2 linked regions of the Homo sapiens genome follow. The protein of the gene in region 1 interacts with the protein of each later gene in a pairwise test. Each region holds a gene or a part of one and is shown on either strand. Other genes may lie near its edges.

The links.
Region 2: the proteins of LAPTM5 (region 1) and HMOX2 interact in binary tests that used the Homo sapiens proteins (3 or more experiments, as listed by UniProt).

The regions. Positions count from the first base shown.
Region 1 is NC_000001.11:30,751,093-30,754,842, forward strand, and holds part of LAPTM5 (lysosomal-associated transmembrane protein 5), read right to left. Parts: intron 1,269-3,750; exon of another isoform or gene 1-1,268. UniProt on the Homo sapiens protein: May have a special functional role during embryogenesis and in adult hematopoietic cells.
Region 2 is NC_000016.10:4,500,306-4,504,055, forward strand, and holds part of HMOX2 (heme oxygenase 2), read left to right. Parts: intron 1-2,438; exon of another isoform or gene 2,439-2,654; intron 2,655-3,750.

The DNA.
Region 1 (3,750 bases):
CAGGTTGGCAACAGAGAAGTCTCGGCCAGGCCAGGCTAGGCCCTTCAGCCACTCTCTGGGTGGGATGGGCCATGGGGGCCTCCTGCTTTTAGAAGCTGGGGTTCACACCCCTGAGGTGAGGAGAACAACTCAGTTCTGACACTGAGGAGGGGCTACAACTCCCACCCTGCCCCCACCGGCCTCCTCACCCCTCCGTGAAGCGCACAGAGCTGCAGTGGCAGAGAACGTGGCCTCTCTGTCCAGCCCAGGGGCACTGGACATAAAGGTGGCAAGTTCTAACAGATTCTCACCCAGGGTTTTCCCCACCTGGCAGTTTGGACCCATTTTTCAACCCCAAACAGATGAACTTTCAACAGAGGAGTGGGGCCAGGCACTATGGCCCACGCCTATAATCCCAGCACTTTGGGAGGCTGAGGCTGGTGGATCACTTGAGGTCAGGAGTTCAAGACCAGCCTGGCCAACATGGTGAAACCCCATCTCTCCTAACGATACAAAACTTAGCCGGGCATGATGGCACACACCTGTGATTCCAGCTACTTGGGAGGCTGAGGCACAAGAATCACTTGAACCCGGGAGGCAGAGGTTGCAGTGAGCCAGGATCACGCCACTGCACTCCAGCCTGGGTGATAGAGCAAGACTCAGTCTCAAAAAAAAGGGGCGGGGGGCCTTGTGTTCTTCTTCCACAGCCCACTTCAGGCACTCACCTGCTAGCCCTCCACCCGGCTTCGCTAGGGTCTCCTCCAAATGATCACTTTTGAGGCAGGGACCACTGGCCCCATTTACAGATGAGGAAGGCAAGGCTCAGATAACAAAGGTGCCCGCCTGCTCAAGTCACACTGCTGGTAAGTAATGGAGATGGGCCTGTGTTCCTTTCAATCACAAATCACTGCCCCCAAAGTGGAGCAGAGAAAAGAGCCCCAGGAGTTCTAAGGAGGACAAATCAGGAGAGCTTCCTGGAGGAGGAAGCTTCCCGTAAACTGGACCATAAAGAAGAAATGAATGGTGGGAGGCTGGATGAGGGCAGGGCCTCCCAGACAGACACACCACCCCAGCCATGGGGCAGGGAAGGAACTCATTTGCCCACTTTCTGGATCATTCCACACACCTGTGTGCCAGCAGGGGGACCTGAAGCAAGCTCCTGCCCCATCTCTCCATGTGTCCTGGAGCAAGTAAGGGGCCCTGCTGGACCTGTTTTCCCATCTGCAAAATGAGCTGATAGGCCGAAGAGAGATCCATCTTCTTAGCTCTGAAGCTTGTAAAAGCAAAGGACTCGGGCAGGTCCCACCCCTGGGGACCTCTCCACCCTCCTCCCCGACACACCTCGTGGCCACCCCTCCTAACCCAGCTTGACAAACCTGCTAGGTCTCTGAAGCACTGCAGGGTCCTTCCCCTCCAAGCCTGTGTCATGCTACTCCCCCCGCCCAGCGTGACCTCTTTTCCAAGGTGCCCAAGCAAAGCCCTACTCATCCTTAAGACTCAGACCTCCTCCAAGAAGCTATTCCAGAATCCCAACCTCCAGCCCTACATCTGTGCCCCCATCATAGCCAGCAATGTCATCCATTGTCCTCGTCGGTTTTTCCTTGGCAGACTGGCCCCTCAAGGGCAGAGGCCGTGAATGAGTCAGGGCTGTATCCCGGCCTGGGGCTGGGCACATGGGTGAACTTACCTGCACGAGGTCAGGGCAATAGAGACTCCTTCTTCAAATACTATGATTTGAATGCTTTACCTTTTTTTTTTTTAAAGAGTCTCACTCTGTCAGGCTAGAGCGCAGTGGCGCGATCTCGGCTCACTGCAACCTCCACCTCCCAGGTTCAAGCAATTCTCCTGCCTCAGCCTCCCGCGTAGCTTGGACTACAGGCTCCCGCCATCATGCCCAGCTAATTTTTTGTATTTTTAGTAAAGACAGGGTTTTGTCCTGACCTCAAGTGATCCACCCGCCTCAACCTCCCAAAATGCTGGGATTACAGGCATGAGCCACCGCACCTGGCCGTACTTTTTTTTTTTTCCAATTTAAAAGTAGTATACTTGAGCCACAAAGTAAAGTACCATTGGATTATAACCCAAAGCATACAGTAAAGATCCCTGGGTCCCTGTAATATAAATAAATCATTTATTTATATAATAAACTGGGAGTACAGACAAATCTCCTTGAGAAATTCCAAGTAATTTATGTAGCTACTCTGCCCTCAAGGAGGTGGGGCGGAACTCCCCATTCATCAAACTTGAGTTGCTTGGAGCAGCATAGTGACTTCCTTCTAAAACATACAGCATGGAAAGGAGAAAAAAAGAGTAACTTTACAAAGGAGTAACCTCAGCCGGGGGCTCAAAGTCACCAGCAACAGTGGTAAGTCAAGTTGGCAGAACCTTTTCTTAGTACGATGTTCTGAGACTGGCACATCATCTCTGTGGTCTTCCTCCCAAAAGCACATTCCCAGACTAATCATGAGAAAACCACCAGAGACCCCAGTTGAAGAACATTTGACAAAATGCCTGACAAATACTCCTCGAACTGTCAAGATTATCAAAAACAAGAAAAATCTGAGAAACCATCATACCAAGAGGAACCTAAGGAAGTGTGAAGACTAAATGTAACGCGGCATCCTGGATGCAATCTTGGAACAGAAAAAGGATGTAAGAGGAAAGCTGGGGAAATAGGGGTGAAGCACTGACTTTAATAACAGCCCACGAATATTCATTCACCCATTGCAACAAACGCACCACACTAACGTTGAGACGTTAGCAATAGAGGAACTAGGCATGGGGGACGCAAGAACTATCTGTACTGTGTTTGCAATATTTTCGTAAATCTAAAACCGTTCTAAGTACGTGCTCATTGTACCAAATATGGAAAATACAGAAAAGTAGAAAAAATAGAGCTTTCACTATCCTAGAACCCAAATACATTTCCTCCTCGCCCAGTTTTGACGTATCCTGTTTTGACACTGTTGAAATCATAGCAGGTGTTAAGTTTTTTAACCCAGACAATGCATTTCTGACAGTGGAATTCCGGGCACTCTGGGGAAGAGGGGTCAGGAAGAAAGAGATTTCTGGGCAAAAGTGTCTTCTGGGGGTGTCCACTTTCTACCATCGACTTAGAACGTGCTTCAGGTTGACAAAAAGCCAGGACCCAAGAGACCCAATTTAAGAAATTTCTCTAGACTGGGCTCGGTGGCTCATGCCTGTAATCCCAGCGCGTTGGGAGGCCAAGGCAGGAGAATCACTTGAGGCCAAGGGTTTGAGACCAGCCTGGGCAACATAGTGGGACCCTGTCTCTACAAAAAAAAATATTTAAAATTAGCTGGCCATGGTGGCATGCGCCTGTGATCCTAGCTACTCAGGAAGCTGAGGTGGGAGGATCTCTTGAACCCAGGAGTTCAAGGCTGCAGTGAGCTGTGATGGCACCACTGCATTCCAGCCTGGGTGACAGAGCAAGACCCCATCTCTTAAAAACAAAAACAAAACAAAACAAATCAAACCACAAAAGATGGGCAAGTTACTGAACTTTGAAAAAAAGAATAGATTTTTTAAAAAAAGAAAGAAAGTTTGCTGGGTTCCCAAAGTGTGCAAGTTTGGGTGACCCAGAGAATCCTCTACACAAACCCACTGACATCCTGAGGAAGATGCCCGAGCCCAAAGCTACGGACCAGGCTTCCCTCATGTAATAACGCCCTCATGACTCAATAGAGCGTGGCACTGTCTCAGGATGGCAAGGTCTCAATTTAACCCTCCCTAGAGGGGCCAAGTCCACAA
Region 2 (3,750 bases), on another chromosome or scaffold:
AGGGAGGGAGCACTCGTGGAGTCCCAGTGCAGAAGTCTCTGAGCAGCCACTTAGCCTCCCTGTGTTTGTGGGGTAACAACCCGAGTTCATGTTGTGGGCATCTCATGCAGTGTAGTAGCTGGTCACTGTCAAGTGTCACTATTTCATTGAGTCAGAAGCCTGCAGAATTGTTCTCATTCCAGGGAGTGAGTCAGTCTGCTGTTGCTTACTCTCGGTGCTGGCTGAGCTCAGCAACCTGCTCTCTTCCTTCAGTTCAGGTTTCTCCAGGGCAAAGAAGTCTTTATTGTTCCTTTCTGTATGACCAGATGGGAAATGAATTATAATATAGTCCTTAGATTATATTCCCACCTGGTAGCAATGCACTGAGTTACCTGACCTGAAATTTGTTGGACTTAGTCTCCATGGAGGAGGATTTACCATCTTCGTTGTCTCAGAAGTCCTGGTAGTGCCTCATGCCAGCAATTTAGCAGGAGCAAAAGCTTTGAGACAGTGTTCTGGATCTGCTGAGCTGGTCTAAAGGAACCTCTTTTGCTTGAAGTAACTGTGATAGGAACTTTGTTACTGCTTCTGTTAGCTCAGGTGTTGGAATGAGAATCAGCAGCTGATGAGGTGAACAGCTAGGAGTACTGGAATTATGGAGTAGTGGAGGTAGATTTTATAAACAGAGGGTCCCAGTTTTTTGGAAATGGGAAAGAGAGAGGGTAGACTGGCCTTTCTAGAATTTGTAACAGAAAAGAGGACCCAGGAGCTTCCATTGACTAGTTAGTTAATGCAGTGCGGGATCTTAGCTGGTTTGCTTGGTCCAATTCCTGTCTCTCGGTTTCTTTTTTCCCTTCCCTTCGCTGCCTTCCCCTCCCTCTTCCCTTTTTCTTTCCAAGAGAATTGAGTCACTCCATATAAAAGAAGCAGCCAGTTGGCTAAAAAGTCCAACAAAAAACAAGTATTTATAGCTCTCCAAATTTCCCACTTGTCATTATCAGTATACTTTTGCACACAGTTATAGTCGGTGTTTGGGATCCTTTTTAAAAAAATAAAAAGTTTCTGTAGGCTTTTCCATGCATGAACACAGCTTATCAACTTGCCCCGGCTGTGCCAGGATTCCATTGTTGACTGTTGTTTGAGCAGTCATGCCCTTTGTTCTTAGGCTGTGTGTTGTTTTTTTCCTAACATCATAGTATGGCTGGGTATTATTTTGATACAGATTACAATTACTATTACTATTTCTTGAAGTGTATTTCCCAGAGTGGAATATTTTAGGATCTTTTTTTCTCTTTTGTGGGGGTGGGGAACATGTAGCTTCTTGTGGATATTAGACATTGAAGTCTAAAAAGGTTCTATATTTATGATTTGGCCCTCAATTTTCTAGAGATTCCAATGGTTCCTGCAAAGAAAAGAGCATTCAAGTATAGAAACCAGCCAGACTAAGTCTGGACATGTAGCTTTTCAGAAAGTGAAAAAAAATTATGTTTCTGCAGTTGCAAGGTGGCCTCTGAATGCCACACTGTGTGGCCACTCCCTTGGACAGTGGCTAGGCCACAGGGTCGCCTCCCCTGGCCCCAGTCTGTGGGTTGAATATGCTAACCGAGCCTTCCCAGGAGCCTCCTCTGCCCCCAGCCCCCAGGTCTGTACAGATGGTAGTTGGTACTTTCAGCCCGCCTTGAGAACTCAGTATTCTTCCTGTTAGCTTTCCTTCAAAGTAAAATCGGTAGAACCTATTTTGAGTGTAGAAAATTTGAAGTCGTGGACAGCAGATTACAAAAAATTGCCCACCACCATGCCTGGCTCATTTTTGTATTTCTAGTAGAGATGGGCTTTCACCATGTTGGCCAGGCTGGTCTCGAACTGCTGACCTCAGGTGATCTGCCCACCTCGGCCTCCCTAAATGCTGGGATTATAGGTGCGAACCACTGTGCCTGGCTCCTTTTTGTATTTTTCGGAGAAGCACAAGGACTTGTTGTTTAATTAAGCAAGACTATACTCTCCCAGAGCATGCAGTTATTATTGAGTAAAACACAGTTAATGAGATTTAATCACGTTCCCTATCACTGTTGTGCAGCATGATAAGTAGGTGCAAATGGCAAGAAGCACGCTGAAGTTACTGCAGTTGGTAACCTGGGCCATGGATGGCACTTGTCTTTGCCTCATTTTGCCTGTAAGAAGCATGGGGCCTGTGGTCCTGGGGTACCTGGACCCTCAGCCTGGTGTGTGTGTGCCCTCAGCCTGGTCCTTTACTTCCATCACCCATCTAGAGGCTCCAGGACCCTTTACTGCACCCCTCCCTCCTCTAGATAGCTCAGTGTTTTCATCCCAGCACCTTTTTCTCTGCTGCCTGAGAACTGAGCAGCCAGAGACAAATTTTGGCTCTCAGGGTCCTCAAGGGTGTACAGCAAAGCTGTTCTTATTATTTAAAGTATTTTATTTATTTATTTTTGAGACAGAGTCTTACTTTGTCGGCCAGGCTGGAGTGCAGTGGCATGATCTCGACTCACTGCAACCTCTGTCTCCCAGGCTCAAGAAATCCTCCTACATCAGCCTCCCAAGTAGCTGGGATTACAGGCTGGAGTGCAGTGGCTCCATCTCGGCTCACTGCAACCTCCGCCTCCCAGGTTCAAGCGATTCTCCTGCCTCAGCCTCCTGAGTAGCTGGGATTACAGGTGTGTGCCACCATGCCTGGCTAATTTTTGTATTTTTAGTAGAGACAGGGTTTTACCATGTTGGCCAGGCCGGTCTCGGACTCCTGACCTCCTGATCTGCCCACCTCGGCCTCCCAAAGTGTTGGGATTACAGGCGTGAGCCACCGCGCCCGGCTAGCAAAGCTGTACTTTTACCAAAAAAAAAAAAGAAAACATTTATAAATCAAGGTCTGAAGGCCCATGTGAGGCTTATTCTACAGCTTGCAATGCCTGTTTTTGCCCCTTGGTAAGTGGACGCACAGCTGGGCAGCCTTATGCTATCTCTGTGAACTACCCATTTCTGGCTTTGTTCATAATATTCCCTTGATCTGGAGGCCCTCCCCCAGCCCTGCCCCAAATCCTGTCTGTGTTGAGGGTCCTGCCCCAGGAAGCCCTCTGCATACTCTTCCCTGCATGTAATACCTGCCTGCTTTCACATTCTTCTAGACTGTGCTGTGCATCGTACAGTTCATCAGCATTATTGCAGAGTAGAGTGTCTCTGATTTGGAGTCAAGAGAAGGTTCCATTTTTCTGTACATCCCGATGTTTATTTTCTGAGTGTTCTCAGACATCACTAAGCCTCAGTCAAAATAAAGTATGATCATGATGTAACATTCATTGAGTGCTTATCACATGGTAGGCATTGTGCTATATGAGTTATTGCTTGACTTCCTAAAATAATCCCAGTAGAGATGCTAAATCTAAAGGTGAGAGAGATGGTTCAAAAAGACCTCAGTGAGCAAACCATGTACTATAATATCCTAAAAGATAACAAAAATGTAACTAGGTATCTAGAGAAAACTCAGGAAGGATATGTGCCTTGGGCCTTTTAAGGACCATTTCTTAACACTTCTGTGTTCTTCTTGACACCTGTTTCTGGGTAGAGCACATAGAAAATGCTCAGTAAATAAGTTCTTTTTCCTTGGCCCAGTTTGGCCTGATTTGGCCCCAGTTCTGTCTTTGTGAGTTACTTTATTAGTTGTCGGTGCTACTGTGCTGCTATTCATGTGGAAGATTCCCCAAATGGGCTGCGCCTTACATTGCCTGAGCAGAAGCCCCGAGGGATGGAGGATGAGCT